4 linked regions of the Homo sapiens genome follow. The protein of the gene in region 1 purifies or fractionates together with the protein of each later gene. This does not show direct contact. Each region holds a gene or a part of one and is shown in the gene's direction. Other genes may lie near its edges.

The links.
Region 2: the proteins of PTTG1IP (region 1) and AP3S1 fractionate together in Homo sapiens (co-fractionation; one large-scale study listed by BioGRID). This does not show direct contact.
Region 3: the proteins of PTTG1IP (region 1) and NAF1 fractionate together in Homo sapiens (co-fractionation; one large-scale study listed by BioGRID). This does not show direct contact.
Region 4: the proteins of PTTG1IP (region 1) and TTC1 fractionate together in Homo sapiens (co-fractionation; one large-scale study listed by BioGRID). This does not show direct contact.

The regions. Positions count from the first base shown.
Region 1 is NC_000021.9:44,854,312-44,862,478, reverse strand, and holds part of PTTG1IP (pituitary tumor-transforming gene 1 protein-interacting protein isoform 1 precursor), read left to right. Parts: intron 1-1,207; coding exon 1,208-1,316; intron 1,317-6,114; coding exon 6,115-6,286; intron 6,287-7,222; coding exon 7,223-7,269; intron 7,270-8,167. UniProt on the Homo sapiens protein: May facilitate PTTG1 nuclear translocation.
Region 2 is NC_000005.10:115,905,243-115,913,232, forward strand, and holds part of AP3S1 (AP-3 complex subunit sigma-1), read left to right. Parts: intron 1-1,578; coding exon of another isoform or gene 1,579-1,614; exon of another isoform or gene 1,615-1,619; intron 1,620-6,846; coding exon of another isoform or gene 6,847-6,894; exon of another isoform or gene 6,895-7,990. UniProt on the Homo sapiens protein: Part of the AP-3 complex, an adaptor-related complex which is not clathrin-associated. The complex is associated with the Golgi region as well as more peripheral structures.
Region 3 is NC_000004.12:163,144,794-163,152,960, reverse strand, and holds part of NAF1 (H/ACA ribonucleoprotein complex non-core subunit NAF1), read left to right. Parts: intron 1-4,526; coding exon 4,527-4,620; intron 4,621-7,096; coding exon 7,097-7,179; intron 7,180-8,167. UniProt on the Homo sapiens protein: RNA-binding protein required for the maturation of box H/ACA snoRNPs complex and ribosome biogenesis.
Region 4 is NC_000005.10:160,061,686-160,068,805, forward strand, and holds the end of TTC1 (tetratricopeptide repeat protein 1), read left to right. Parts: intron 1-1,856; exon of another isoform or gene 1,857-1,971; coding exon of another isoform or gene 1,972-1,988; intron 1,989-3,246; coding exon 3,247-3,380; 3' UTR 3,381-3,858; downstream 3,859-7,120.

The DNA.
Region 1 (8,167 bases):
GGTGCGATCTCGGCTCACCGCAACCTGCGCCTCCTGGGCTCAAGCGATTCTCCTGCCTCAGCCTCTGGAGTAGCTGGGATTACAGGCATGTGCCACCACGCCCGGCTTATTTTGTATTTTTAACAAAGATGGGGTTTCTCCATGTTGGTCAGGCTGATCCCGAACTTCTGACCTCAGGTGATCCGCCCTCCTGGCCTCCCAAAGTGCTGGGATTACAGGCGTGAGCCACCGTGCCTGACCCGAACAGCAGTTCTTTCACCCCTTCCTGTGCCATCTGCCTGCGTGCTAGGCTGTCCCCTGTCACGCTCAGTGCCTGGCTCACAGACCGCTTTCGGGCCTCGTTGTGTACTGCTGTGGCATGGGCTGGGCCCAGCTCTGGGCTCTTACACACACACACACGGGTGTGATGGTGTTGTCTCCACACCACTGCGGCCTCACACCTGACGTTCAAGGGGCTCAGACAAGAGCGTCTATGAGGTTCTCTCCAGCTGTCAGTTTAGGGCGGGCTGAGCCGTAGTTGCATCATCTTTCAAGCTGTGCGACTTAGTGCAGTTGTGAAGGTCAGAGGTAGGAAGCATGGTCCTTGCTACAGATGGTGACCATGCTCACCCAAGTCCATTCAACACAAACTCAGTGAGTGCCTGTGATGGGCCAGGCTGTGTCCTGTGTTCTTGGGAGACTTCAGCCAGTGAAGTGCACAGGTGCCCGGCGTGTGGGGAGGAGAGGTCTACGGAAGCAAACCTCACAGGAGGTGAGGAGGAGGGGGTGGAGGCGGCTGGTTGTGTCCAGTCTGTTGATCGAGGCAGGGCCCATCCAGTCAGTGGGGAGCCACACAGATGTGGGGAGAGTGCTCCAGGCAGAACCGGCAGGCTGAGCTGAGGCTGAGAGCATGAGGTGGGGTTGGCAGCACTCAGGAGGCTGCCAACACAGAGGCCCCGTGGCCTCAGCAGGGTGAGTTGTGGAAGAGGCCTGAGTGACGCGGGCCTTGGATGAGTCCGTGGAGAGCTGACAGGGCTGCTGGCCGCTGTGCTGGGTGTGGACCGAAGGGCGCTGAGGGTGAAGGCAGAGATGAGGCGTTGAGGGGGAGGTTGAGCCTTTACAGCCATCCACAGAGCGATGGCAGCACTGGCGGGCTGTGGGCAGAGCCTGGACAGTTCTTTGGTTTTTCTGTTGTTTCTAATGCTTGCTTAATGTTGGTCTCTTTCAGTGTCTTTGGTGCAACACTAACAAGGCTTGTCTGGACTACCCAGTTACAAGCGTCTTGCCACCGGCTTCCCTTTGTAAATTGAGCTCTGCACGCTGGGGAGTTTGTTGGGGTAAGTCATTGTTTTCATTTGCTGCTTGCAAAATCGATGCTTCTTTGAAAATAGTAGTATGGGCCGGGCGCGGTGGCTCACGTCTGTAATCCCAGCACTTTGGGAGGCGGAGGCGGGTGGATCAAGAGGTCAGGAGATTGAGACCATCCTGGCTAACATGGTGAAGCCCCGTCTCTATTAAAAATACAAAAATTAGGTGGGCGTGGTGGCATGCACTTGTAATCCCAGCTACTTGGGAGGCTGAGACAGGAGAATTGCTTGAACCCGGGAGGCGGAGTTTGCAGTGAGCCGAGATCGTGCCACTGCACTCCAGCCTGGCGACAGAGCGAGACTGTCTCAAAAAAAAAAGAAAATAGTATTATGTGCTCAGTTAGCAGAAGTTGCTAGAAAATGTGCTGCCAGTAGCTCTGTGACTCCCAGGGAGAGGTTGGGAAGCCAGGGGTGATCTGCTGACCGGGAAAGCAGCCCTGGGGAACCTGGAGGACCTCCTTCAAGGTGGTCAGCCCCAGCACTGAGCTCTATCTCACCACGTTACAGAAGGTGTGGGGAAAAGGGTGAGTTTGAAGGCAACGTGTTTGACTTCTCTGCTCAGTATGTTTTGTTCATGTGTCACCCCTGAAACTCACCTGTGAATTCCCCTAGAATCTCCAGTTTTCCCAGCTTAAGAATCCCTGCTTGCGTAGACAGCCCTCTTTTTTTGTGTGCGTATCTTTGTATATTTGATTTTGGAGGCGTTTTTAAATTAAGGAAATCAGCTCTTGTGAGATTCAAGTTGTTTTCTAGTTTGCCTTTATTTATTTATTTATTTATTTTTGAGACGGGCTGGAGTGCAATGGCACTATCTTGGCTCACTGCAAGCTCCGCCTCCCAGGTTCACGCCATTCTCCTGCCTCAGCCTCCTGAGTAGCTGGGACTACAGGTGCCCGCCACCACGTCCGGCTAATTTCTTGTATTTTTTAGTAGAGACGGGGTTTCACTGTGTTAGCCAGGATGGTCTCGATCTCCTGACCTCATGATCTGCCCACCTCAGCCTCCCAAAGTGCTGGGATTACAGGCGTGAGCCACTGCGCCCAGCCCCGTAGTTTGCCTTTTAAATCAGTTTGTGGTGTGTTTTGTAACCTAGAACTCATTATTATGTAGTTGAATTTATTAATCTTTTAGGCTTCAGGTTTTGGGGTAATACATAGGGTTCCTAAACTTTGTAAAGAAGCAATATTTTCTTAAGGTGTTTTGATGATTCTTTTTGTTTATTTGCATCTTGGATCCCTCTGCAACTTACGTCTTACTTACCACTCTTCTAATTGATTTCCATTTCAAAATCTATCAGCCTCCATCTGAAACAACTTGTTGCTGGTGTTGAGGCCCTAGAGAATTCAAAAGTTTGTGTGGTGGTGGTGGTTGTAGTGTGGGATGTCTGGCAGGGGGTGGTGGTGGTGTGTGTGCACCTTCATGTGTGATGTGTGTACTGTGTGTGATGCATGTGTGTTTGTGAACTCATCCCTTCCATGGAACTTCTCTTAATGACCACTCTGAAGACACAGCTCCTGGACCTGGGGAGCCTTGCCCTTTGGAACACCTGTTCTGGAGGTGTTTTTAATGGCATGTAGCTTCTCATGAAGTGCACACATCTGAAGTCTCTCTCTGCATGGACTTTATAGCCTACATAATGCACACATGTGTGCCTGCATGGACCGCAGTTTATAGCCTACATAATGCACACGTGTGTGCCTACATGGACCGCGGCTTATAGCCTACATAATGCACACGTGTGTGCGTACATATATTCAGTGCATTTTTGCATACGTATACAGGTTATCACCACTCACAGCAAAGTAGGTAGGACTTCCAGGACTTTCAGAAGGCCCAATTCCTGTCAGGACCCCCATGGGAGCCACTGACTGGACTTCCCGTCACCACAGATTAATGTTACTGGTTCCCGCCTTTATGTGGAGGAAATCCTGTGCTTTATTGGATGTTTTATTCAGCATGTGCCCGAGATTCGTGTCAATTGCCTGCACCAGTTATCTTTCTCGTGCAGTGTTCTACAGCTGTTCAGCCATGCTGCCACTCAGGGACGCCTGGGTCCTTCTGGTGCTGCTGTGAGCGGTGTTGTGTTGGTGCCGGCACAGGCGCTCACGTCTGGAGGAGTGTAGGGGTGGAGTTGCTGTGTCACGGAGCATATTTGTGTTTAGCCTTAGTACGTCTGCCAAATGTTTTTGGAGTGGCTGTACCAGTTTGGCCTCCCTCAGGCAATGTGGGACTTGGTTGCTCCACATCCTTCCCAATGTTTAGGGTAACCAGTCACCCTAAGTTCAGTCCATCTAGTGGGTGTGTAGTGGTGTCTTGTGCTTCTCACCTGCATTTCTGCAGTGACTAGCCGATCGTGCTGAGCACCTTTACAAGTGGTGGGTGTTTTTGACAATTCTCTTGTGAAATGACATCCCCACGCTAGGCTGCAGAAGTGGATGGACACACAACACCCAGCCCTGCACATGAGAGCGGCAGCAGGTGACTAGTCACAGTCACAGTGGGGAGGGGGCACCACACGCCACGCAGGGTCCCGCAGGGGAACAGGGCTCGGGGAGGCAGCCATTTCGTGACAGGAGGGTGGGGTGCGATGGGCTTGTTTGGTTAATTCTGAGGCTGAGAGGGAACTGACACCTGCTCCTCCGGGAGAAACAGAAAGTGTGCCTGGCCCTGCCGGGAGGAGGAAGAGGCTGTCTGAGCTGGGACCTTGTCCAGCCTTGCCCACGGGAGCAGAGTGGGGAGGAGCAGTTGTGGCCGGGCCCTCAGGGCCCTCCTGATTTCACCAGATGCCGCGGCGCACATGATACCCGTTTTAGGTCTTGCACCACAGGTCCTTGTTTATTCTTACAGGTAACCTTAGAACCATTTTATCCAGTTCTAGCCAAAATTATTTTGGAGCTTTAATTGTAATGGCCTGATAAACATGCTTACTTGAAGGAAAATGAAATGTCTACAGCGTTGGCCGTTTGTCCAGAGGCAAAGATGCCTCTCTTTCAGGCCTCTCCCACATCCTTTGGTTCAAGTTCAAGTTCATGGGTTTTACCCTATGGAATCAGCAAAAGGAGCCCAGAGTTTGTTTCCCATTGTGACAGGATTTCTGTTTGTTTTTAACTAGTTTTAGCTGCTAATCAGAAAAGCTATCTGAGGGGTAGATATGTTTTAAGGCCAGCCATCTTGTTGATCTCATTGGAGTTCTCCAGTCAGAAAATGACATCTTCTGCCAATGAAGGTCCCCTCTGTAGTTCTCCCTCTTACTATAATTTTTGCAATTCTACGCTTCCAGAACAGGTCAGAGGAGGAAAAAACACAGGATTAAAAGCTCAAAAGGCATTTGATCAGATGTAACCTCCTATTCCTGATTTTCAAACTATTTTAATAAACTAAGAAATGCGGATCTCAGCGTCCGGGGCAGCAGAGGGGTGAGGCTGCGGGAGCCCCAGAGGCCTGGCCGTCGGCCTCCTTGCCAGGGCCCAGGCATGCAGCAAGTGTTCAACTCCCAGCCCCTGGAGGTGAGACGGTGTCACCTGTGGTGGTGGCACAGCTATTAACTGTAGTTAAAAACAGTGAATCATGCGGTAATCTACTGCCCAGGGGAGTTTGCTTATAAAGCCATCTTCAGGAGGCTGGCTGGGTGTTTTTTGTTTGTTTCAAGATGGTGTCTTGCCGTGTTGCCCGGGCTGGAGTGCAATAGTGTAGGCACGGCTCACTGCAGCCTCAACCTCCCAAGCTCAAGCGATCCTCCCACCTCAGCCTCCCATGTCGCTGGGACCAGAGGTGCATGCACCACACCCAGTTAATTTGTTAAACAGTTTTGTAGAGATGGGCAGGGCTGGGTCTCACTTTGTTGGCTGGGCGGGTGTTGAACTCCTGGGCTCAAGCAATCCTCCCGATTTGGCCTCCCAAAGTGCTGGGATTATAGGTGTGAGCCACTGTGTCCAGCCAAGGAGGCTGTTTGAACTACATGATTGAAAACACATTTGCAAAAGTAGTTTTAGGGTATTTTTTAATTGCCTCTGGTTTGAACTGAATGGAAAAATCTTGGCTGATTTCAATGTATAGATCTTCAAAAGAAGTTTAAAAGGATAGTAAGATCTGTTTTAAATGTGCACGTGTGTCTGAAGGCTGGTTAAGGAAATCATAACAGGGTTTGGGACCGATTAGCCAGCCGTTCTTCAGCCCCAAGGTCCTCAAAACACTCAGATTTGAAGATGATCCCGTCTTGTTCCGTGGTCTCGTCCGCTCCTCCACGGTCATTCTTTTCGAACCTGGCCGCCAGTATGTGCCCTGAGAGTCTATTTCTCTTGTAAATCATTGTAATATTCTTGACTTTGGTTTAAATAAAAAAAAAGAAAGCTGCATCAGGCTTAACCTCCATTTCTGTGAGTTTAGAATGTCTTACGAGAGTCTGAGTATGTAGCTTGGAATTTTGGTTAGTTAACTTTTCTCAGGCTTGAAATACCTTTTCAAACTCAGCTGAGACAGACTACCCTGTCACTTCAGTTCATTATGGTTAATATTATAAATTGTTAATAAATTCTAAGTCACAGATAGGAACGTGTGGCTGAAAGGAGACTTGGAGAGGGCGGGACCCTGTGGGGTGGAGGCAGGGCCACAGGCTCTCCACACGCCAGGAGCCAGCAGCCTGGCCGAGGCGGCTTTCCTCCTTATGCTCCTGTGTCCTGAGGTTGTTCCCCAGGGGCGAGGGAAGGCTGCTGTGCTGGGTGGGTTCTGTGTCTGGGGCGGCCCTAACTCCAGGTGCTTGAATCTCCAGTGAACTTTGAGGCGCTGATCATCACCATGTCGGTAGTCGGGGGAACCCTCCTCCTGGGCATTGCCATCTGCTGCTGCTGCTGCTGCAGGAGGAAGAGGAGCCGGAAGCCGGACAGGAGTGAGGAGAAGGCCATGCGTGAGCGGGAGGAGAGGCGGATACGGCAGGAGGAACGGTGAGGTGGTGGTGATGCCCGCTGGGAAGGTTACTTCGAGGGGATTCAGATCTGCAAGGCCATGGAAATCACATGGATACATCCTGAGTTTTCCTCAGTTTTTAGAAATTAAGAATGTGTATAGTGCCCAGGGGATCTTCTAGGTCGTGGTAGAGAGCGAGAGACTGTGATGGGAACCTAGCAGTGGCTGCGAACCTTGCTTCTATAGGCTTCCTCGCCCGGTGTCCTCCCATCGGTGCAGTAAGGCTGAGTCTGTGCGCGGTGACACGGGTGTGTGACGGCTGCTAAGGCGGCTCGTCCAGGCCCAGCATTTGCCAAGAGCAAGCTGAGGCTCAGAGGGGACAGCGTCTGACTGTGGCTGGGTCAGCTCTCCTGTCGCCCTTTCCCTGGTGACACAGCACTCTCCTGAGTGCTTGCTGGGGCTCTGGGGCAACCCCAGGAGGAGGTGGTGTAATCCACACCTGGCAAAGGAGAGGACCTGAGGGGCCAACTGTCAGGTTGGCGGCGGGCGAGGGTGGAAGCGGGACAGATTTTCCATGTAGTCACCTTGAAGTCACATGCTACTAAGTAAAAGCTGACAATCGCATTTTCCTCACCATCTTCAGAACCTGGTGTATGATTTTTACTGTGTTTTCTTTGTATGAAAAAAGCTTTTTAAAAATCACGGTATTGGGCATTTGAATTGCTTTTATTGAAAAGAGTAGAGTAATACATTGGAACGGCCTTTGAAGACTGGGTTCGTTGTCACCTTGCCTGTCCTGGTGGGTATGTGGCCTGATGACCAAGCTTGTCCTCACCCTGGTTTCACTCTGGGAACTGGAGGGAAGCCACCAGAAGAAACCTGGCGCCCCCACTGAGGGACACGGAAGGGCGTGTCTAGCAGTTACACCACCGTGCGCTGTCGTTTGGTGCTCATAATGTTCCTCTGTGTTTTAGGAGAGCAGAGATGAAGACAAGACATGATGAAATCAGAAAAAAATATGGTAAGGACTGGTCACGCCTCCTTTTTGTCTGGTTGGGAGGCGATGGCACGCTGTCTCGGTCCTCGTTAGTGCCAGTGTGGCCTGAGATGGGGCTGTGGGTTCACCCATCGGAACAGAAGGACGTCTCTCCAGAGAGGAGCAGCTGGCGGTTGTCCCCAGCGGTTCTGTGGTGAACTCACTCCTAAGAATATCTTTATCTCAGCCAGTCGTCTTCATGAAGTCTGTTTTCTCAGATAGCTGTTTGCTTATCGAGTCCCAAGACTTCTGGGCTGGAAGTCTGCAGCTGTTCTGCCGTCGTGTTTGGCTTCCTGTGGGCACGCCTGCGTAGCCGAGGTGCTGTGAGTTTCAGGGCGGCCCTCTCATCCTCGGGAGCGTTGCTCGTTGCCATCTTCTGAGTGTGGCAGGCGCTCCTTCCAAGCACTCCCCAGCACCGGCCCTGCTCCTTCTCGCCCAGCCTCGGCGTTCTGTTCTTGTTTGGTTGTGTCTGGAGAGATTTTGGAGAGGAGCTTTGAAGGAGCCAGAATGAATGTATTTGCCAAGTGTAAACCTTTTATTTAGTTGGAGTGAATTGGAAATACACATTACGTTATCTATACTCCCCCAAACCACGTGATGTTCACTGCTTAACACTGAACACCACCACCCAGCCGTGCTTCGTTGATTCTGTATGATTTTAAAGTCCGCAAAGAGTCTAGTGTCTCCCGCGCTGGGTTTGTGGTTGTGTGGTGTCATGGGCGTCTCCCGCGCTGGGTTTGTGGTTGTGTGGCGTCATGGACATGGTGGGAACTGACTCCTCGCCTGTGCGAGGTGCGTGGTCCTGGGTTCATGGCAGCCGTGGGCCTCAGGAATCTGTCGTCCTGCGCCCACGGTGCTTTCCTTGAAGCAGTATATTAAAGGC
Region 2 (7,990 bases), on another chromosome or scaffold:
GAGGCAATTTTTCTTATCTATAAAGAGCAGTAAAATGCGTAATTTACATTTCAATGGAAATAGTTATAAGAATACTATAACTTAAAATCTATTCACAGAAATAATGCTATTTAAAATAGTTTAGAATACTGGTGATTACTTCTATTATTCATTCCCTGATCATCTCGCATCATACATAATTGTTATCTGGTACCAAATTAGTTTCTCTTCTTTTGTCTTTTACAAGAAAGTATGTTTTAAGTCTGATTGGGGATAAACTACAAAATTATATATTTTCTATACATGTAACGTCTGCTAATATTTTAGTTATGAAATCGGATTTCAAGTCAAAGTGAGGCCATTTAGCCCTGATCATCTTTTTAAAACAGCACTGAAAATTATGATGACTAATTTTTCGTAGCTTTTGTATATTTTAAGTATGTTTGAAAGGCTTCTAGCTTTATTCCAGCTAGAATGTCAAAAGCTTTCATATGTTTCATGTCCATGTTACTTCAATTGGTTAAATTTACCAGAGATATTACTCTGCAGAATAATCCAAAATTACTTGAAACAAAGTATAAACTTTTCCTAATCTTCTTACTAAATTTCAGTTAAAATGTATTATATAAGGACAAACTTAATGACTTGTTTGGCTGGGCGCAGTGGCTCACGCCTGTAATCCCAGCACTTTGGGATCACTCAGGTGATCTGCTCACCTGAGGTCAGGAGTTTGAGACCAGCCTGGCAAATATGGTGAAATCCCGTCTCTACTAAAAATACAAAAAAATTATCCAGGCATGGTGGCACTTGCCTGTAATCCTAGTTGCTCTGGAGCCTGACGCGCAAGAATCGCCCGATTCCGGGAGGCGGAGGTTGCAGTGAGCTGATATTGCACCACTGCACTCCAGCCTGCGTGACAGAGTAAGACTCCGTCTCAAAAACAAACACACAAAAAAAGACTTGTTTAAAATCGAGAATGTCATGATTGATGAAAAGAACTGGTTATCAATATTTTTAAAAATTATTTAAGTAATATCTTAGGAACATCATTTATATTTAAAAATCAGTCTGGGTATAATTGAGACACAGCTTTTTAAACATAACATGCATTTATCTAGGGGCCTTTGTCAGAAATCAGAGCTTTTATTATGTTGGTCTAAAGTTAGTACATTTCTGGTAATGGAAAAAAGTGAACCAGTTTAATTCCCAATACCTAGACAGGTGGAAGCAAAGCTCTGCCAGATCCTGAAAGAGAGAAGCAAAGATATACTCTGAATGTATTTCCATCTATTCTATTTTGATAGAAAAATGGTTTACTATAACATTGGAATATTGGGAGAGGAGGGTTTAAGCTGGGAGGTTGATGGGATTCGGGGGAAGTATAAGAGGCACTCAGGAACCTGCCTAAGAATAAAAGGACTCCCTGGGGGTGGAGGTAGAGGGGTGGGGTTGGGGAGATCTGTTAGCTTTTATGTATTTCATGTTATTCTTAAGATGGATAAATGGGTCTGAATTTAGTCACTACTTTTTGAAAGTCAGTCCTCTTTTTTTTCCGAACATCCTGATCTTTCTAGCTCTTTCCATTCTTCTCTCTTACAGACCTTTATCTTTCAGTCTCCCAGACAGGACAGGTAGACAAGGTATTGCTGACTTTGAGAAATATGTACTATAACAAAGGGAAAGCAAAATGATGTCAAAGGCAATTAATTATTTAGGCCAGACTCAAAAATTCTTTGTGTTAATAAACCCATATAGTCCCTGTAGCCTATTTTCCATTCTAGTTTCTCCTTGTAGTTTCTTCATCTTTTATTGGACTTAGTGTATTTTACTAGTATATCATTGATGTCATGTTTGTTCTGTTTTGTCTGCCTGCATTGTAAAAGGAAAGTTTAAATTTTTTTTAAACACTTGTCATCTAACTGACAAATTGCATTTGCAGAAGTGACAATTTACTTTGTATATAAAAACGTAAAATTTATTTTGAGCATCATATAGCAGAACCAATCTTAATTTAACTCTCACAGATTTGTTTTTTTTCCATCTCTAAATTAGGATTCTAACATAAAATTGCCTGCTGGGTTTTGGAAGCTGTGAATTTAAAAACCAAAAGCTGAACCTTCAGAGTTTTGCATACAAAATGGGAAGCAGTGAAGGCTTAGAATAGTGACTGTTAAATAGTACTTTTTCCCCTCAAATGGTTTTCAGTTCCAAAGTCTTAACAGAATTGCTTTTACAGTTTTGACCTGCAGGTGCATATTAACAGTGGCCAACAGAAAATAAGATCAGAAATCTTATAAAACTTGACTGTATTTCAAACTAGAATGCTCGAAAAATGGAATTACCAAATTACCAAATCACCAAAATACAATGGGTTTTCATTGTAGCAAACCTTCTGACATCCAAACATGTCATAATCAGAATCAATAAAAATATATTAATGTTTTAGTATTGAATTAAAAACCCTGAATATTTTTGCAAAGCGTATTGGCAAATATTGGAAATATTTTTAATAGACCTCTAGTTTTACAAAACTAATTTTTCTTCTGATATTTCCTGTACGTTTTTTCACACCATAAATTAACTGTGTGAATTACTTTTTTAAAAGTTCCATGTACGTGGTGATGAGCAACTATTTTGTGTGAAACCATGTAAGCAAAAGAAATGTTTATAAGGTCTCTGATTGAAAATTTCAAAATAAAAGTAATTTATTGAGTCCTATGGAGGAAAAAATGTATAAACTTACGAAGTTAGATTATGCACTTACTAATTAGAAAAACATCACTGAGAATTGATGATTGTGGTGATATCACAAAGCATTGCCTTTTAGCCACTAAATTTTTACTTACTCTCTCGATGTGTTTGAGAAGAAGTAGCAACATACAGGTGGCTTTATAGTATCTTATTTTGAGATTGTGGGCTATGTCACAAAACTGGGGTACCGTTTTTGGTCCCTCTATCCATGTTATTTTGTCCCTCATATAGAGAATACATAGTAGTCTCATTCTCACCATTGGTCAGAATTATTGCCAGTTTCTGTGTTACAGTATGTAATTTATTACTGCTATTTTCCAGCAAAGAACCATTAATCACTTGGGTCTGTTAACTTTATTGCTAGAACTGTTAATTGGCCTTTTTTAAAAAAAATCAAGTTTCTGTTTTCAAAGAGGAGAGAATAAGAAAAGTGGCTCTAAGGTACTGATGGTGGAAGGTCAGCTCATGAGCTGGTTCTGCCTCTCTACCTTGACATACACATTTGTCTTGTACTTCTACAAAATTATGGTGAGAACCCTTGAGGTCACTTGTAATGGTCAAAACTAGTAATGATAAATCCATGAAAGTCATTAGTCTGCTCTCTTTTTTTCATGCAGGCAAATCCTATGTTTGAAATTAAAGCTATAATTGAAGATAATCCGTACAAAATGACTAATAATTTGGAAGGTTTTTTAAATTTTTGAGCACTCTAATTTTGTTAAAACTGTGAAACACCATAGTTATTGCTGTCTAGAGAATTGTCATGAGCTTATCTAAATGTTTATAATTGCAGTATTAAAGCACTGCCATTAAAACAAAGCCTATTATATATCCCCAGATTAAAAGTTATTCTACCTCGTGTTGAGGGATTTTTTAAACTATTGACATTTTCTTTTTTGCTCAAAAACATGCTTTCAAAATCTGCCATTATTTTGTTAATGATTTTGAGTCTGAAACCATTTAATATTGTGTTTATTAATGTTGGTGTTCTTTCACTTTGCTGTTAGGTCAAAATTATGAATGTGCATATAGCAACTTCCAGCAGGAAGGGTGGGTAAAGGTTTTAATACGTACAGTTTGTTCCAACTACCATCTTATTATGCTGTATTCAAACTTGAAAAAAAAAAAGATATTTTAAGATGGTAGGATGGTATTTTATGTCTTAGATGAAATAAATAACAAGATTACTCTATTACTTTCCTTTTCCCTTCAAGAAAGTTGATTGTTTATTGCATGAGGAAAAGGGAGCTTTCAGGGTCTTCGAAATACATTTTAGTAATGCTGCTTTTTCAGTTTTGCTTGCACATATTTTGTTTATTTTTGGGTCTGGCAATTTAAAAACAAAATCAAAAACAAATCATATCCATCCATTACTATCTTTGTGATTCAAGTGCTTGAAATTTCCAAGAGTATGTCTGTATAAGTCTTTATCTGTTTGGCCTCATTTTGGTATACTTGCAGACTTCATTTTGTTTTCTTTCTCTTAATTCTGTTAATTTATTTAATCTCATGGGAGAGAAAACATGATCATTCTTTTATATACTGTACTTCATTCTTTCATCCAGTTCATATTCTTAACTGCTTTGGATTCATATATTTGTTTTTATTGGTGTAGTCGCTGCAGTTTTACCTGCCATGGTGGTGCTCAGGTATAACATAGATGGAAACAAGTTATTTCTCCAGTAGAATTTCATTCTTTTTATTTCTGCTGTGTGTCAACTATATAATCTTAAATCTTTAAGAACTATGTTGTACTGTCAGAAATATCTTACTTTTACGTTTAAAAATGTATTTACAGTAATCCCCCCTTACCTGTGTTGGGTACATTCCAAAACCCCCAGTGGATGCCTGAAACTGTGTATACTACTGAACCTTATATATGCTATGTTTTTTCCTATGCATATATACATATGATAAAATTTAATTTATAAAATAGGCACGGTAAGAGATTAACAACTAATAATAAAAGAGAACAGTTATAACAGTATAATGCAATAAAAGTCATGTGAGGCCAGGTGCACTGGCTCACGCCTATAATACCAACACTTTGAGGGGCCAAGGCAGAAGACTCACTTGAGGCCAGGAGTTTGAGCCAGTCTGGGCAACACAGTGAGACCCCATCTCTACAAATGTATATTTTTTACATTAGCTAGGCGTGGTGGGACACACCTGTAGTTCTAACTATTCAGGAGACAGATGGGAAGATCACTTGAGCCCAGGAGTTCAAGGCTGCAGTGAGCCATGATTGCATCACTCACTCCACTGTGGGTGACAGAGTGAGACCCTGTCTCTTAAAAAAAAAAAAAAAAAAAAAAGTTATGTGATTGAGGCCTTTCTCTATCACAATATTGTACTGCACACACTTATTTTCAGACCACAGTTAACCACGGGTAAATGAAACCATGGAAAGTGAAATTGCGGGTAAGGGGGGACTACTGTACTGCTAACAAGTCAGGTAAACAATTTCTGTAAGTTTTAGCGTTGAAAAGTTAAGTGTTAGTAAAAGTTATTTTGTTGCTTTGAATGTATCTTACTGGAAAAAAAAAAAATCTTAACCAAGATGAAAATTACTTCATACCTCTGTGTCAGCAAACTGATTGCCTAATGGAAAGTTACTTTACATTTTATGTTTTAATAAAAATGTTTCAGGCATCACTTTCATGAATGTCTGAAAATGAAATTTGTTTTATAGCCATTCTGGTGTTGACTGAGTGACATAAAGTCTTTTTTTTTAGCCCTAAATTTTTATATATAAACATTGCTAGCTGGTTTAAACATCTGTTGATCAATTGTCCTTATCATATTTTCTCAACATTTTATATTTTGCATAATATGATTTCTTTTTAAAACGTTAGTTTAATTAAAACTTAAAGCACCTATTACAACTTTAAATTTTCCTACCATTTAAATTCATGGCATACTACACAAAAGTATTGAACATGCTTGAGAAATAATTTGATCCTCCTAATTCATTTGCGTGTTCTGAATAGTTCCTATCTTTTGCATGTCTATGGCTTGCTGCTTATGTTTAGAAGAATTGTAGTTTGTTGTACTTAGAAACTTCTTTTGGTTTTACATATTAAGCACAAATATGCTATTTAAATCAATTGCTATATTGACTTTATGTATTCTTGTTAGCAGCCAACAGTCGACACCATCTTTGGTCACAATGATACAACTCAATCTAATGAAATTTAACAGGATGCATTTTTAAATTTTTTTAATTTATTTTTTGCTTTAGTTTAGCTCTTCATGGTACAGGATATTATGGAAAAGAGAGCTTCATGTACATTTAATACTGAAAACATTATGTTTACTATTTATAAGTGTAAACCATAGTGTCCAATAAAATACACAGATAAACACACACACACACACGCACAATTTCTCTCACAATAATAAAATCCCTTAATAATTCACACCTTTAAAATATTTATACTCAAATATTTTGTCAATACTTTTCTATAGTCAGTTCATTATTTGTCTTCTTTATGGAAATTCCTAAGTAAAAATAGTGGCAAATTGGTCTTTTAACTAGAAAAATTACAAAATCCTCCTATCTAAAAAATGATACTACCTCCAGGACGTCTGCAATTTTGTAAATTTTTCTTCCTTAGTAGACAACATACTTCCTGGTAAAAGAAAGCCAAAAGATGGTAAACCTCTTTGAATTGGATTCTTCTTTGATCCCAACCCACTCTAAATTTTGGTAGCTAGACCTTTAACTTGAAACGATCAAATTAAAGACCCTTTCAAATATTATACATGCTGCCTTAATTATTATTTAGTTGTATCTCCAACATCTTTGGGGGAGCAGGAAGGAAGGGGGGGTAACAAAAACTTCATTGCTTCAGGTAGGTATAAGTATAGAGGTCAATCACATTTTTAGTTGTACATCAAAAATAACTAACATCCATTAAATTATAAAACTTCTCCAGCCCTATTCACTATTTAATTGGGTATGGAGTTATTCATTTGTATCACTCTTATCATTGCCTGTGTAGAATATACTTATTATTAATACTATTCTACTAATTTTTCTATTATTTCCAATTCTGAATTGATAATCCATGGCTTTTATTTCATTGCTTAACAATGTTTGTATCCTTTATTTAGCAAATAGTTTACACTGGCCTATTTTGTATCAGTCAAGATTTTTCTCAGGTAACAGCTTTATTATTATTTTTATTTTAATTAACAAAGGTAGGATTACATAAGAAAAGAAAACTAAAATTATGAAAAGGGACCTTAAAGCTAGTGTTTCTAATTTTATGGACATTGCCATATATAATCTAATCAAAGTGGAAGATTCGTTTTTGTTGTCTATTTTTGTACAAAATGATGCCACTGAACTCAGATGTCTTTGTTGACTTTGCTTTATTATATAGCCTGAATAAAAAGTAATGAAATGTAATTGGTATATAAATTAAACCTCAAATATGAAGGCTGTTAACGTAGGTGAGAAAAATGATATGTATGCATTTTCTTTTATTTGTAAGCATATTTTCTTTTAAAATTATTTCACAAATTACAAATGTTCCTACTAATAGGAAAGCCAAATATTATGCACTAGTGGTACTTACTGGAAATTTTAGAATTCATTTATTTATATTTACTACCTCTTGCATTTATGCTTTTCTTTCTCTAAATTTGTAAACTGTAAGCTGAATATATGTTGCTGAATCTATGCTATATGACAAAACATTTTTAATCGTTATATTTTTACTAATGCATCAAAGGGTTGGAATGATCCTCTTCGTGTAGTTTCATCTTTAGGCAGAACTATATTCTTTGGATTGAGGCTTTACTTGAAAGCCTATTTTTTTAATGTTCTAGAACTTTATTAGAAAAGTTTAAAAGAGCCCTCACAATTTAAAAAACTAATTTTATTGTTTTAAAATGTTTTAAGGGTTTATCCCTAAGAAATTAAACAAGCACAATCTATTACTTGCAATTTTTATTTCACAGCACATATTGCTAATAAATGCCATTTTAAAAGCAAAAGAAAATCTATCACAATCGTTGCAAGAGATATTTAATAAGGAAACTAATGTAAATCATGCTTCATGCTATCTGTCAGTTAAATCAAGATATAGGTGAAGATTTAGGTTTTATCATGTGAATATTGTGTGGTAGTGCACATTAATTTGTATTTAAATCTTTACATTGTTATCATTGCATGTGTTCACTGTATTTTTTAATGTGTCACTGTTTTCTCTTTATAGATTAGTATTTCAAAGTAACCATTCCATACCAATTC
Region 3 (8,167 bases), on another chromosome or scaffold:
CCAGCAGGGCTGGCCGGCTGCTCTGAGTGCGGGGCCCTCCAAGCCCATGCCCACCCGGAACTCCAGCTGGCCCGCAAGCGCCGCGCGCAGCCCCGGTTCCCGCTCGCGCCTCTCCCTCCACACCTCTCTGCAAGCTGAGGGAGCCGGCTCTGGCCTTGGCCTGCCCAGAAAGGGGCTCCCACAGTGCAGCGGTGGGCTGAAGGGCTCCTCAAGTGCCGCCAAAGTGGGAGCATAGGCAGAGGAGGCGCGGAGAGTGAGCCAGGGCTGTGAGGACTGCCAGCACGCTGTCACCTCTCAGTAGGATCACTGAACTGGTATTGGAAATATGGTGGTGATTTCAGATAACAGTGTCTATGTCTGTTTTCCCCAAAGTTTGGTTCTACGCAAAATCAGAGAACCTTCACCTTTGTGGGCAAAACTTTTCATTCTTCCAGTACATAGGTTGGAAACATGGAACAGCAACAGGAACTAAGAGGGCCTGCCAGACACTGTTTTTGACCAAAATTGTGAGACCCTGACTCACTACAAATAATCTGGCTTTATATATTTTCCCTTATCTTGGTCATACTGGATGTCTCCTAGTACTCTTTAGAGCAGAACATCAGGACTTCATCAGACCTTGTAGACTGAACTGCTCAACTTACAGGAAATTACGTTATAATGATCTCAAAATGATAAAAGAATATTTGATGAAACTCAACACTTATTTCTGATTTTAAAAATTTTATTAAAATTGGAATAGATGGATACTTTCTTAACCCATTAAAAAGAAATTCCGATAAAAATGCATCATTATGCTTAGGATTTGGAACATTCCTATTAGCAATGTCCACTGTCATCACAATTGTTTCATATTTGAGATTCTGGAATTTGGAATTGTCAACCAGTATCATCTGAAAAATGAAAGCCATGTACTAATATTGAAAAGAAGGACAACTTACTCTTTGAAAATATGGTTGTATAATAAATATACAAGAAAATTACTAAAAGTAAATTTCAGCATGATGCTTTCTTATGTTCAAGCAATACCCTATAAAGGGTCTATTTGTAATAGCAATAAAATATATTAGATAGGAATTTATAATAGCAAGTAATATATAAAATAGCTTGGAATAAGCCTAAGCATTTGTATAGGACCCTTTATGAAGACAACTGTAATTAAATGTGATCTCAATCAATACTGATAACACTAATATGACAAAATAGTTCTGAAGTGTAGTGAGATAAATATGTGAGAACAGTTAAAAAAAATTCCAAGGGGAAAAATATTTATGGATTGGGTAAAGGAACTAGCCCGTCATCTCAAATATTGAAATGTTTTATGAAAACCACAGTTGTTAAAATAGTTTAGTACTGACACTGAACTAGATCAGTGAAATTGAATGGAGATTCAGTAAAAAACCCAAATATATAAGTGTACTTAGTATATGTTAAAGTTTGTTTTTCAAATCAGTGAGAGAAAAGATGGATTATTCTACAGCATGTCAGGATAACTGGCTAGTAGTTTGGATAAAGATAAAGCCAATCACTGCTGCACTTTTATACAAGAATAAAATTGTGAATGGACCAAATACACAAATATTAAAAAAAAAAAACTAGAGAAATAAAGAAAACAATAGTGAATTTTCAGTGATTTTGGGATAGGGAGGACCTTTCTAAATGTGACACAAGTTTCAAAAGCCAAATATGTATATATACTTGACTACATAAAAATTAAAATGCTAAAGGTTAACTAAATGACTGAAATTGTTTAGTTTCTTTAGCTAAAAAACATGCTGTGGGGTAAGGGAGTGGATATTTGCTACATATTTGATAAAAGACAAATGTCCTTGAAAATCCAAAGGTTTTTTTTTTATAAATTAATAAAAGATAAGCCCTTAAAAAATATGTAAAGTTATACAAGAAACAATTCATAACACACATAAAAATGGCCAGGATACATGCAAGGATGTTCACTCTTCTTTATGAATGAAGAAATTCAAATTAAAGCAAGATACTATTTTATATTCATAAGACTGGCAAAGATTTAAAATTTACTTATCAGTAATGGCAAGGTTGTGGGGAAATCTCTCATACATTGTGGAAATGTGAATTGACGTGACTTTTTAAGAAGAAATTTAGCAGTAACTGTCAAAATTTTAAATATGCATGTGTTTTAGTCTATCAGGACCACTTAAAATAATTTATCACAGGGGTTACACAAAGATATATGTAAAAGAATGTTGTATCATTGTGTGTAGTGGCAAAAGTTTTGAAAGGGCAGATATATGTTGTGTCAGGCAGCTAGTGTATTATAGTACCACTGATAAAAGTGGAATATCCTAAGTGTTTAAGGATATATGTTGTGTCAGGCAGCTCGTGTATTATAGTACCACTGATAAAAGTGGAATATCCTAAGTGTTTAAGTAAAATTAGATATATGTTTTTGTTTGTTATAGAAAGATATGCAGGGTATGATCAGTAAAAAGGGTACCTTGTATTAAAATATGGATATTTTATTTAAGTAAAAAATATTTTGAAGTTAGAATTAAAGTTTATATCTGCATAGTAAAGGTATTTGAAAGATACATGTTAACATTAGCTGTCTATGGGGCTTGGCACTGGGTGGTTGAAAGGAATAAAGTAGGGGAATTTTCACTTTTTACTTTGTATCCTTCCATAACTGCTTGAATTTTTCCTTTTGTAAAAATAGGAACATGTTTTACTTTTTTACTTTAAACAAACAACAAAAGCAAAACAGTATCAGTTTAGATTTATATCAAAGCATAACTATTATATTACATGGGCCTTTATTTCTCATAATAGAAAATACAAAACCAGGGGCCTTTCCTGCTGGTTAAATAGCACTTGTTTATTTGAGAATATTTAACCAGTAGGCTTTATCCCAATCCAAAAGTACTCAAATTTTTGTTTTAGATCTTATAATTTGGCTAGGTAATGGGACAGATTTTATCACTGTACTTCTGGATTAGCAAATGACATTTGCCACTTAACAAGAGGAGCCACTCCCAGAACCCGAGTCAATGTGAAACTCCCCTCACAATTGCCCTCTGAAATATCATTAAAGCCCTCTTCTCTGCAGTCCCCCAAAATTATAGTTATCCAGTCTTGTATTTAACAAGGTTTGAGATTGCTTTAGCTAAGAACTTCTGTAAAAAGGCTATTTAATGTCACAGTTTGTTCTAACAACTAAACTCCCTTCTGCATTCTGATACACACATGAACCATTTTCAAACCATGGTCTTCCCAAGATAAGGCTTTCCACGTTTAATATGATGAAAGGGCAAGTGGTTATTCTCTCTTTGAAAGTACTCATAAGAATTCTGATGGATAAAACAAAATAATTTCCTCTAACACCAGGCAGACTAACCATACAAAGGCATGTTGCTGACTTCCTTCTGCATCAGTTGGTTGAGACCCGTAGTGTTGCTCTCCATAAGTAATCCTGTATCAGAAAATAGCATATCCCAGAAACAAAGTGTATTTTAGATGTCTGCTTATCAACTCTGGTTGAATGATTTTAAGAACCTAGTTTAAGTTTCCGTAGGGGTAATATGATTACTCAGGATGCATTCGTCTGCAGTATACTTCATGTTATGTAGGTTTTCCCACCTTTTCCAACATTTCTCCAAAAGTTATCCTTCTCCCAGTTTAACTGCTAAAATGCCATTGGTAGGGTCTTTGCACTTCAAGCCATCTTGAGGAAAAGCTTCCTTCTGAGAGTTAGATCATTTGGCAAGGGTCAAGAACAGAAAGCTGTGTTTTTAATCTAAAGGCTAAGGTCAGATTTATTCTTAGATTTCTCTTCAGATTCATCTGTACTTCAATATCTAGTTTCCATAGCAACTGAGATGCAGTTTGCAGGTGGGTAAGAAAAGAGAAATCTTTAGGTGTAAAGAAACTTATTTTTTAACCTAGAGAGAGAAGGTATCAGGCAACACCTTCATAGTTTTTATAGGCTAAAGCCTATATTCTTTTTTCAGGACTTCAATGTTTCACTGATAGGTGTCATTTCCTTTTTCCTGAAGAGGCCATTCAACTCTTCTTGACACAGTCGCAGAAAAGATTGCTGCTTCTGTGTTCTGTTTAATCACAGTCAAACTAATTAACTAACCAATTTAACAAGACAGCTAAAAGAACTTATGTGGAGAAATTATAGTTACTAGTAGAATTATTTCTTTTCAAATGGAATGTCTCTGCCTGATAATAGCCTTTTTTACAGGAAGTAGGTAGTCTCTTGTTCAAGTGTGACTGAAAGAATGTAGAATAGTACTTATGTCTGTGTTCTTAGTCTAACTGAATTTGGGGTGTATACTTGAGACCTGTTGAGTCACTTAGGTGGAGAAATGTTGGAGGGAGAGAAGTGCTATCACAAGTCTGCAACCACTAAAATGATAACATTAAAGAGATGCTCTAAGCACTTAAAGCATTTTCAGAGATGTGTAGCACTTAAAATGGAAAATTTATTTTTTTTAAGTTGTTGAAGCTGGAGGAAGTTTAATGTTTTGTTTTGTTTTAAATTATAGGAACTGCCTTCTGTTGAAGAACTCACTATTATTCTGCCTGAAGATATTGAGTTAAAGCCTCTTGGGATGGTTTCAAGTATTATTGAACAACTAGGTATGTTAAGAATTCTATTAATAAAAATTGTTTCCAAACACACACTAATAATTGAATCAATGACTTTTATGACTAGTAAATTTTCTTTGACATACGTAATTAACACTTTATTTTATAGTCATTAAGTTTGAAGGGATAAAATTCAGTTTTCATATACTAAAATTATATATAAATACAGTTTATTTATAGAAATTTAAATGTCTGCTTTTACTGACATACTTCCTCCGGAATTTCCTTTGATTTGGTTTATTAGTTTTCTAATGTTGCTATACCAAATTACTGCAAACTTAGTGACTTACAGCAGCACAATTTTATCATACAGTTCTCATGTGGGTCTCAGTGGGCTTAAAATCAAAGGTGTTAACAGGGCTGAGTTATTTTCTGTAGGTACTAGGGGAGAATCTTACTTCCTTGCTCTTTTTGGGTTCTAGAGCCTGCCCACATTCCTTGACTTTTGGCTCTCTTTCTTCATCCTGAAGGCCAGTAATGTAACGTCTGTCTCTGAGCCTTCTTCCATTATCTCACCTCACTCTAACCACATGTGGAAAGGTTCTCTGCTTTTAAAGACTTTTTAGATTGAGTTTACCTGCATAATCCAGGATAATCTCCCCTATCTCGTGGTCCTTAACTTTAATCACATCTGCAAAGGCTCTTAAAAATGTAATGTATTTACAGATTCAGGTATTTAGAGTGTGGATATCTCTTGGGGAGCCATTCTGCTCACCACCTTTGATTTTGTCTTAAAAACATGTGAGAAAGTTTTGTAATTTAATACTGTTATTAATGGCATGAAATATGAAGTTGCTGAGTTATAAGAGAACTTAATATTTTAGACTTCTTTAGCCCCAACATGTGAGTTTGTTCTGTGAGATTCTTGTTAATATAGGTACTATTAACTCGTAGTAGGATATGCTGGAGAATAGAACTCAGCACTGACAAAGTAATAGGATTTTGGAACTGTGAAGAGGACCTAGATTGCCCACCAGCCTCCACAGGACCTGAGGAAACAGAAAAATTCAAGTCAGTTGCTCTTAGGACCAGTTGTATAGTGAGTCAGTGGTAGAAATAGGACCTTTTTCTTTTGACTTTTTTCTAACAGTGTCTATATTGATATTTTTAAAAATTAACACTTACATAATTTTGTACTTTTTCAGTTTATTAATAAAAATGTAGATTAAAATGAACCTTCTTTTCAAAAATAATAATTAAAATTCTTTCCGTGATTCTGGAATCATTACATTTACTAGTTTTAGAGTTATGGTATTTAATAATATATATAGATAAATCAAACAGGCAACTAATTTCTTGATTATGTGGTATGATTTAAACATTTATTAGACTTGATGTATACAGAAAAATTTTAGGTCATAATGTTGATCCTCAAAAAAATAAATGTAAACTCTGACGTACATGGAATAATGCATGTCATTTTTGCATTTTTAACAATACTATTTTGACTAACATAGACTGAAAAAATTCTCAACCTAATGGGAATAAAGAGTAAATGGGTCAAAATCAGCACATGCTACTGTTGCAGATTTTTAATAGAGATTTTTAATAGAGACAAGGTCTTGCTACGTTGCCCAGGCTGGTCTCAAACTCCTGGGCTCAAGCCGTCCTTCCTCGCCAGCCTCCCAGAGTGCTGCAGGCGTGAGCCACCGTGCCCAGCCTGAAGTATCCACTGTTAAAATTAATTGAGATACAAAAGAAATTGTTTGAATTAATTTTGATAATCTGAGGTAATATATTTTATTCCCTTAGTTGACATGGTATTATCTATGTAATGTAACAGTGTTCTTACTTGTGGCTCTGATGTTCTAAAAACTTATTGAGAGTGTGTTTGTGTGTGCGTGTGTTTTCTCTTTGTTATGGTAGATCAGTTCTTTAATATTTGTGTCATTTAAAAGAACTGGAGATTTGGAGATTATGTTTTTGCTTTTTGAGGAGGGAATTTTCATGTAATGATAAAAATTACTGTGAGCTCTAGCACTTTTACTTCTTCTGTTCATAGGAAGATGCTTTTGTGAAGCCTTTTATTTAACTTTTTCATATACCAGTAACTAAACAGTGCTTTGTAGAAAAGAATTTTTAAGAGTGAGAAAGAAGACTAATTTCTTCTAAAACAGTTTTACAACTAAACGTGATTACACTATTTTTGGTAAAAATTACTTGAGAATATGTACATAGCTTGAATTTGTTGAATCTTTAATGGATGATTCAGATTTTCTGTGGGATTTGCATTTTAATTTTTTTCCCTTAGAATTATAGCTTTTTGTATTAAAAATAGGTATAAAAACATTTCCCAGTGCTATTTGGTAATAAGTAGACTTTGTTTACTGAAGAGAAAATGGTTAATGAGGTAATAATCCCACCTTCAATTTTTTTTTAAATTATGTTGGAATTAAAGCTTAGATTTTCATTAAAATTCTACATTCTCTTATAAGTAAATCTTGAAGTAATCTATTTTATTTTTCAGTAATAATTGAATCTATGACTAACCTACCTCCAGTTAATGAGGAGACTGTAATTTTTAAAAGTGATCGACAAGCAGCAGGAAAGGTTTGTAAAACATTTCAAATCTTACAAATTATTCTATTTATTTATTGTTTTTTTCTGACTTTCCCCATCAGTTCTCAGAAGAGTTTATTTATTTTAATTGATGGACAATCTAGAGCTCTCTAATTTCAGTACGTTCTTGATTTCCTTTAGTACTTCATATCTGTCTGTAAATTGGTTTAATACTGATTATTACTCTTTGCCACATGAGTTATTAAATACACATATATAGAATTCTTTCCTAGTGTTTGTCAGATAACTTGCTAGGCAGTGAGTCTACGTAATGCATAACACATCGTTTCCTACCGTCCAGATACTCAGCTGAGTGAAGAAGACTTCCCATAGTATAGTAGCTCTTAAGCATTTTTGTTTTGTGAGCTCCTTTGAATAGTGGCTCTCAGACTTTTCAGACTTTGACTTCCTCAGGTGGAAGCTCGGTGTGGAATCTTTTCCAAGTGGAAAAATATTTCACTGACAGCAATGAATTGTCACTGTAGGCACATCCTGGGGAATTACAAATATGTGCATTCAAGTAATTACTATAAGATTTGGTCCCTTTTAACATCTTTCTAATGGAACAACCCTGCATGTCCACCTTAATGTAGAAAACTGTGCACTTTACTCAGCAACTAGGCAATTCTGACTGGTTGGCAGAAGACATAAACATTCTAAAATCAAGAATGTAAATACTAAGTAAGTATTTATTTCCTGGCAATAGGGACAGTTTTATTCACCTTGATATTCCCCATTGTATCTAGTACAGTTCTTTGTAAATTATTTGTGCCAAGTAAATGTGTATTGAGTTGAATACAAACAAATAAGAAAGGAGCTATTTGTGATTTTCATGACAGTTGTCTTTTTTTCTTAGTACCTAACTTAGACAATTTTAATCTGAAAATACTCAACACTTTGCTAAATTAAAACCTCTAAACAGACATTTTTTTTGTATTTCCCACTACATTTGAATTTCTAGACCTGTAAATGTGACTAA
Region 4 (7,120 bases), on another chromosome or scaffold:
GGTCGGTGAAACTAATGTGAAATGTTATAAAGGCAGAGATACTGGAATTGAAGGAAAAAGAATAATTATCTATGTGTTAGTTTGGGTCATCCAAAAAACAGATGCCAAGATAGGATTAAAAGTACAAGAGATTTACTGGGGGAAACACCTGCAAGGGAAAATGGGGCTGGGAGCTGGAGGCTGTTGGCAGAGTTGGCAGACCCCTGTGGAGGAGGAAAGGCCGGGGGAGCGGGGAAGTTTTCCACTGGAGTGTGGTGCTGAGAAAGTTTCAGCAAAGCCATTGGGGAGCCAGTGCTGCCCCTCAGACGAGTCCCTCCCATGCTCAGGCATTGGCTGGAAGCAGCAGGTGGGAAGGGTGGCCTCTGCATGAATGTGCTGATGGATTTTAGAGTGCAGCCACTCTGTCCCCTGCATTTGGAGAAATACATCTTCATGACTGCCACACCATAGAATCAACCAAGCTAAAAGTTCAAAGGTGGCTTGTGGCACACAGGCCCTTTAGCCAGTTAGGCAAAACGAGGGCCTGGGAAAGAGAATTCTTCCTCTCGTCGGCAGTTTGAATATTTGCAGTCTTAGCTTGGAATGGTCTTTCTGCACTAGAGGGAAACCTCCTTTAGTGCAGACCAGCCTAAAGCCAAGCCATTGCTGCCTGAGGAAGCTGCCATCTCTGGAGCACGGTGACATGCCACCACCCTGGACCTATTCCCATCCCCCGGAGCACTGTGGCATGTAGCCTCTTCGTGCCACTGCAAGGTCAGAAAGCACCTCTGGGCACACCTCCGTCTTTTGGGTCTGCCTCCCCACTAGACTGAGCATTGTGCATAGAAGCTACTTTTATTCTTTACATCCCAGTGGCTTACATGATAGATGCCAAGTAAAATTTCCAGTTTGTACTTTAAATTGTTTTTCTGGCACTGGAGATGGGCTTGCAGTGATCCCTCCATCCATGTAATGGCCCTGGGCTCAGTGGACCATCCAGAGTAGGCTTCTCCACCATGGAGCTGCCCCTCCTCAGGAGTCTGATGTGAGTGGCTCTTGATACTCATTCTCACTTCACTCACTCCATATCACAAGAGCCAAGGATTTCCCAGTACCAACATTTTCTTGGGCTGCTTTTGATGGTTTTTTTTTTCCCCCTTCCTGTCCTCTTTTTCCAACCCCAGAACAAACTGCCAGCGTTCCTGGTTGGTGTTGCTAACTCAGGTCACCCTGAGGCTGCCCTGTCTTTCTCTTGCTTGTTGTGAGCCCCTCCCTCTACGCCCATGTGCCCGAGGCTGTGCCGCTGCCTTGTGCAGGCACCCAGGGTTTATGCCAGTGATTTCCTGACACAAGCAGCAGCACAGAACGTGTGTGTCCCAGGTTTAGGTTTGGGAGGCCTGCCTGGAGAACAGCCATCCCAGGTTCTGGGAGCTTTCTCAATTTACTGTTTTATCCAAAGATGGGTTGGCCTTTCTCTGGACATAGTGAGCTTCCTTGGGCTAGTTCTTAAGCCTGAGACTAAAAGTTCTCACCATGAGTTATTAGGGAGGCCTGTAAAATGTAAAGGCCATGCGTTTTTTTTGCTCTGTTACCCAGGCTGGAGTGCAATGGTATGATCATGGCTCACTGCAGCCCTGAACTCCTTGGGCTCAAGCAATCCTCCTAACTCAGCCTCTGCATAGCTGTGACAACAGGTGTGTGCCACCACACCTAGCTAATTTTTAAATTTTTGTAGATACAGGGTCTCCCTATGTTGCCCAGGCTGGTCTCAAACTCCTAGGCTCACATGATCCTCCTGCCTCAGCCTCCCAAAGTGCTGGGATTACAGGTGTGAGCCACTGCACCCAGCCAAGGCCATGCACCTTTAAGTTCTTTACCTGGGCTTTACTCTAAGATGGGAGGCCTCAGAGTGAGAAAAGCTGCTAAGAAGTGGGAAGGAGCCTGTACCTCTGGTGATTAGGGATTTCTCTTTTCGTCCACCCCCATTCTCACCTCCACTGGAAGTAGACCTGTAAGAAAAATTAAAGCAGTTTAGAAAGGGTTGAAACTGTTTATTCACCCATCCCTGCCAAAATTTTCTGGAACATTCCTAGTTTCAGATGTTCCTTATATCTTAAAACAGCATAAGAACTGTTTTTTGTTTTTAAAAAAAAAATTTGTAGAGATAGAGTCTCACTGCGTTGCTCGGGCTGGTCTTGAACTCCTGGGCTCAAACCCTCCTCTTGCCTCAGCTTCCCAAAGTGCTGGGAATACAGGCATGAGTCACCATGCTTGGCAAGAACCGCTGGCTATAGACCATGACTTTTTTTTTTTTTTTTTTTTGAGACGGAGTCTCACTCTGTCACCCAGGCTGGAGTGCAGTGGCGCAATCTCAGCTCACTGCAACCTCTGCCTCCCAGGTGCAAACGATTGTCCTGCCTCAGCCTCCCTAGTAGCTGGGACTGTAGGCGTATGCCACCACCCTCAGCTGATTTTTGTATTTTTTGTAGAGATAGGGTTTCATCATGTTGGCCAGGCTGGTCTCGAACTCCTGACCTCAGGTGATCCACCCATCTCGGCCTCCCAAAGTGCTGGGATTACAGGCGTGAGCCACCACGCCCATCCTATATACCTCACCCAAGTCGTGTAAATAAAGCCTGAAACTTGGGAAGAGGAGGCTGGACTATTGAGGTCTTATTGAGGTTGCTGTGCAAATCAAGATGATCCCATTTCTAAGAAATGGCTAGTCTGGTATAGAAGCTAAGGATTTGTTTAGGAAAGCAGGAAGCTCTTGAATATGAATCCAAGCTCAGTGGAAATGGGCTGAGTTGAATTACATTTAGCAGGTGGCTGCTGCCGTTCTAGAGAGAAGAGACTTGGAGGGACCTCTGCCCTCACTACCAGGCAGACCTGGCTTGGCAGGGTGCCTTGAGCCTCACTGGAACAGCAGTTGGTTTTCCCAGAACTCACCCCAGAAGCCTGTGTCCTCTGATAGCACTGGCCAGTTAGGACAGGAGGCTTTGATTCCCAGAGAGAGCCAGCAGGACTCCACTCTCATCTATGCAAGCACAGGCTGAGGGTGGATGGCATTAAAGTGACTGCACTGCTGAGTGGGGAATAGGGGCTGGGAACTCTCCTGGAAGCTTTCATCATATTAAAAGTAGGCATTTCTTTAACTGCAAAGAGATACTTTTATATTTTGTACTCAGTGGTAAGGCAAGATTAATTGGTACCTTCCTGCTTCTGTTCATTCCTGTATTCATTTGAGTTTTTGCTTTTACATTACAGGTAAATTAAAAGATCTTGGGAACTTGGTTCTCCGACCTTTTGGGCTCTCCACGGAAAATTTCCAGATCAAACAGGATTCCTCTACCGGCTCGTACTCCATCAATTTCGTTCAAAATCCAAATAATAACAGATAACAAAGATAACAAAAGCTTTACAAGCTGACTTGGAATTGTGTGCTGCTTGCTGTTAGCTAGGGGAAAGGCCCTGCCAATGTTTAACTTTTAAAAGCATCTTATCTAAAAGAAAGGCTATCCAGTAGAGCCCAGTGCTCCCTTGTCCCTCTTTTATGATCAGGGTGAAATGTACTTCCTGATGTAATGAACCTAATTTGATTTCCATTTTAAGGTGGTGTCTGTGCAGCTGGTGTCCCCGATTCTGGCTGTCCTATGTCCAGGAAGAAGCCCATTTGTTGAGGCTGACCTTCCTGATCATACACACACACAGCCCAGCAAAAGCCTCTCCTGAACCAAACAAACCTGTTGGTTGGGAGACTGCCCAGACATGATTGATGACGGGTTCCCGCCTGCTGTCCCCTCCCTGATCACACAGCTAACGAGGCTGCCTCCAGCATTTCCTGATTTCCTCTGTGGTAATAAAAGCTTTCTGTGCTTAGGTCTGGGTTAGGTTGTGAATTTTGTCACGTAACGACAACTAAGGCAGAAGCCTTCTCTGGCTTTGGGAGCAGTGTTGGTTTCAAGCAGGGTTACTGATTCCAGATTCCACAGATCTGCCCAAAGTTTTTGTTGCCTTGAAGATTTATCTTGAAGAGTTGACCATTCTACCATGTACTAGAATTCAGAAAGTCCACCTTACAAGCTATCTTGGGCCCCTCCAGGTTTGTATAGATAATTATAAATCTGTGTTTGACCAAATGTTAATATTTTTAACTTAAAATAGCTTCATTGAGGAATGGTAGTATATGAACCCCAGAACAAAACCATATTCTTTTAAACTACATGAACCTAGAGGTGTCAAAGATAGAATTTTTTTGTGCTCATCAGTTGATGCTAGTGAGAAGCTTGCAGTTGCTCTGGTTTGAGTCTCAAAAGCTTGACATGCAAGTTTCATCTTGGATGTAAATTACACATATAATTCTGTAAGTGACATGCAGTAGTCAGTCATACTCCCAGTGTTAAGGACTATGTGGTTCTTCTCATCTGTTCCTAAAAGCTTTTTATCTTTTTTCTTCTTTTGGTCAAAGTGAACCTCAGAAGAAACTGTTAAATCTGGCATCCAATTTTCCTGAAAATGTGTGTGTGAAAAATCACACAAGTTGTATGGAAACCGTGTGGAATGCTGGATGGTCTGGTAGTCAGTGTTCGGTGCTTCCTGTGCAGCCAGCATTATGCTAGAAAGTGGTTCTCATTTTTTTTTTTTTTTTTTTGAGGGGGGTCTCGCTCTGTCACCCAGGCTGGAGTGCAGTGGCGCAATCTTGGCTCACTACAACCTCTGCCTCCCAGGCTCAAGCAATTCTCCTGCCTCAGCCTCCAGAGTAGCTGGGATTACAGGCATGCACCACCACACCTGGCTAATTTTTTGTATTTTTAGTAGAGACAGAGTTTCACCATGTTAGCCAGGCTGGTCTTGAACTCCCGGCCTCAAGATGATCCACCCACCTTGGCTTTGGATTACAGGCGTGAGCCACCGTGCCCAAACTTTTATTTCAGCAGCCCTTCATAGTCTGGAAAAAAAAATTTTAAGAGCATTTCCATTTATGTGCATTCTATCAATATTTAGTATATTAAAAATTAAGATAGAAAGTGTTAAAGTAATCCCTTTGAAAAATAACATGTTTCCTGTTACTATAAATACTTTTATGTCAGGCCAGGAACGATGGATGGTTTATACCTGTAATCACAGTACTTTGGGAGGCCAACGCAGGAGTATTGCTTGAGGCCAGAGATCCAGACCAGCCTGAGCAACATAGCAAGGTTCCATCTCTACAAAAAAAAGTTTAAAAAAAAAAATTAGCTAGGCGTAGCGGCTTCATGCTACTTGGGAGGCTGAGGCAGGAGGATTGATTGCTTGAGCCCAGGGGTTCAAGGCTGCAGTGAGCTATGATCCCACTGCTGCTCTTCATCCTGGGTGACAGCGAGACCTTGTCTCTAAAAAAAAGTTTTACTGAAATTTTTACAATTTTTATGGAAAAATCTTCCAACTCAAAGACACATTTTAGTGAGAAGAATGACATTTTTGCACATCTCTTTAATGCATGGCTTGATAGAGAACAGCAAGAGTCTCACATCTCTTATATTCAGTTTGTCCTGAGATCACAGTGCAGTCACTGACAAGATAACAGTGAAAAAAATAGACTCTTTAATTTTGTATTATGAAAACAGTTTTCATAAGACAAAATTTTGTCTTATGAAAATAGCTTTCATAATACAAAATACAGATAGACACCTTGAAATGGTCTCCAGAACACCTATGGATCCTTGGACTACATTTTGAGAACTACTGTCACATCGTGCCTTGAGCTCAATGGCTGAGACTTAGCAAAATCAGGGCTGAGATTCCAGAAGGACTATCTGTGCCTCCAAGGAATAGGAAATAGACTTGTTCGTCTAGAAACAGCTTTGGTTAAGAGAAGATGCCCGAGACTACCATTGCCACGAGTGTAGAGGTTTTGTTTCTTAGGCTTCCTCCTCCTCTTCCTCTCAATCACACTGAAATCTTATAGGATGCTACACAAGGCCAATATTACATGCTCCCAGTGGGTGGGCCAAGCAGTGCATTGTCTGGAAAGGAAAGGATCCCAGTAGGTGTGAGCTTGCTTAAGCCAAGGAGTTTTTATCTGGCACTGTTACTTTGCTGCTTCCAACATTTGTAAGAAAAGATATATTCAAACCTTTTGAAAATGTTTGACCATAGAAAATCTTCAGACTTCAAAAGTAGAAAGTAAGTGTTAAGGAAGGAAGGTGGCCTGTATTTGCCTATTGCTGCTAGAATGTGTGATTTTAAAGCTCTGGCCAGGCACCGTGGCTCACACCTGTAATCTCAGAACTTCGGGAGGCCGAGGTGGGCGGATCACCTGAAGTCAGGAGTTCAAGACCAACCTGACCAACATGGTGAAACCCCATCTCTACTAAAAATACACAGATTAGCCAGGCACAATGGCACATGCCTGTAATCCCAGCTACTTGGGAGGCTAAGGCAGGAGAATCGCTTGAACCCAGAAGGCAGAGATTGCAGTGAGCCAAGATCATGCCACTGCAGTCCAGCCTAGGTGACAGAGCAAGCCTCCATCTCAAAAAATAAAAAGTTCTGTGATGCTCCCCCTAACCCACCACCAAAAAAGCATACCAGAATTTACTTTTAAGGTAATCATACTGTGACGTTGTACATATTCTTATTCCGACAATATTGCAATGGGTCAAAATAATTTTTGGAGGCTGGGTGCGGTGGCTCAAGTAATCCCAGCACTCTAGGAGGCTGAGGCAGGCAGATCACCTGAGGTCAGGAGTTTGAGACCAGCCTGGCCAATGTGGTGAAACCTCGTCTCTACTAAAAATACAAAATTAGCCGGGCGTGGTGGCGGGCGCCTGTAATCCCAGCTACCCAGGAGGCTGAGGCAGGAGAATCGTTTGGACCCAACAGGCGGAGGTTGCAGTAAGCTGAGATCGTGCCACTGCACTCCAGCTTGGGTGACACAGTGAGACCCTGTCTCAAAAAAATAATAATTTTTGATCTTTTAGAATTGCCCTGGAGACTCTGAGAAACATTCTTTAAAATATTATCTACTCTTTCTCATCTGCCTCCTGAGTAGACCATGAGCTCATGGAAAGGGCCACATTTATGTTGTTAATAGCACCAGCAGCTACCACTGTATTAGAGACTTAGTGAACTGGTATTAAAGGATATCCACAAGACGTGG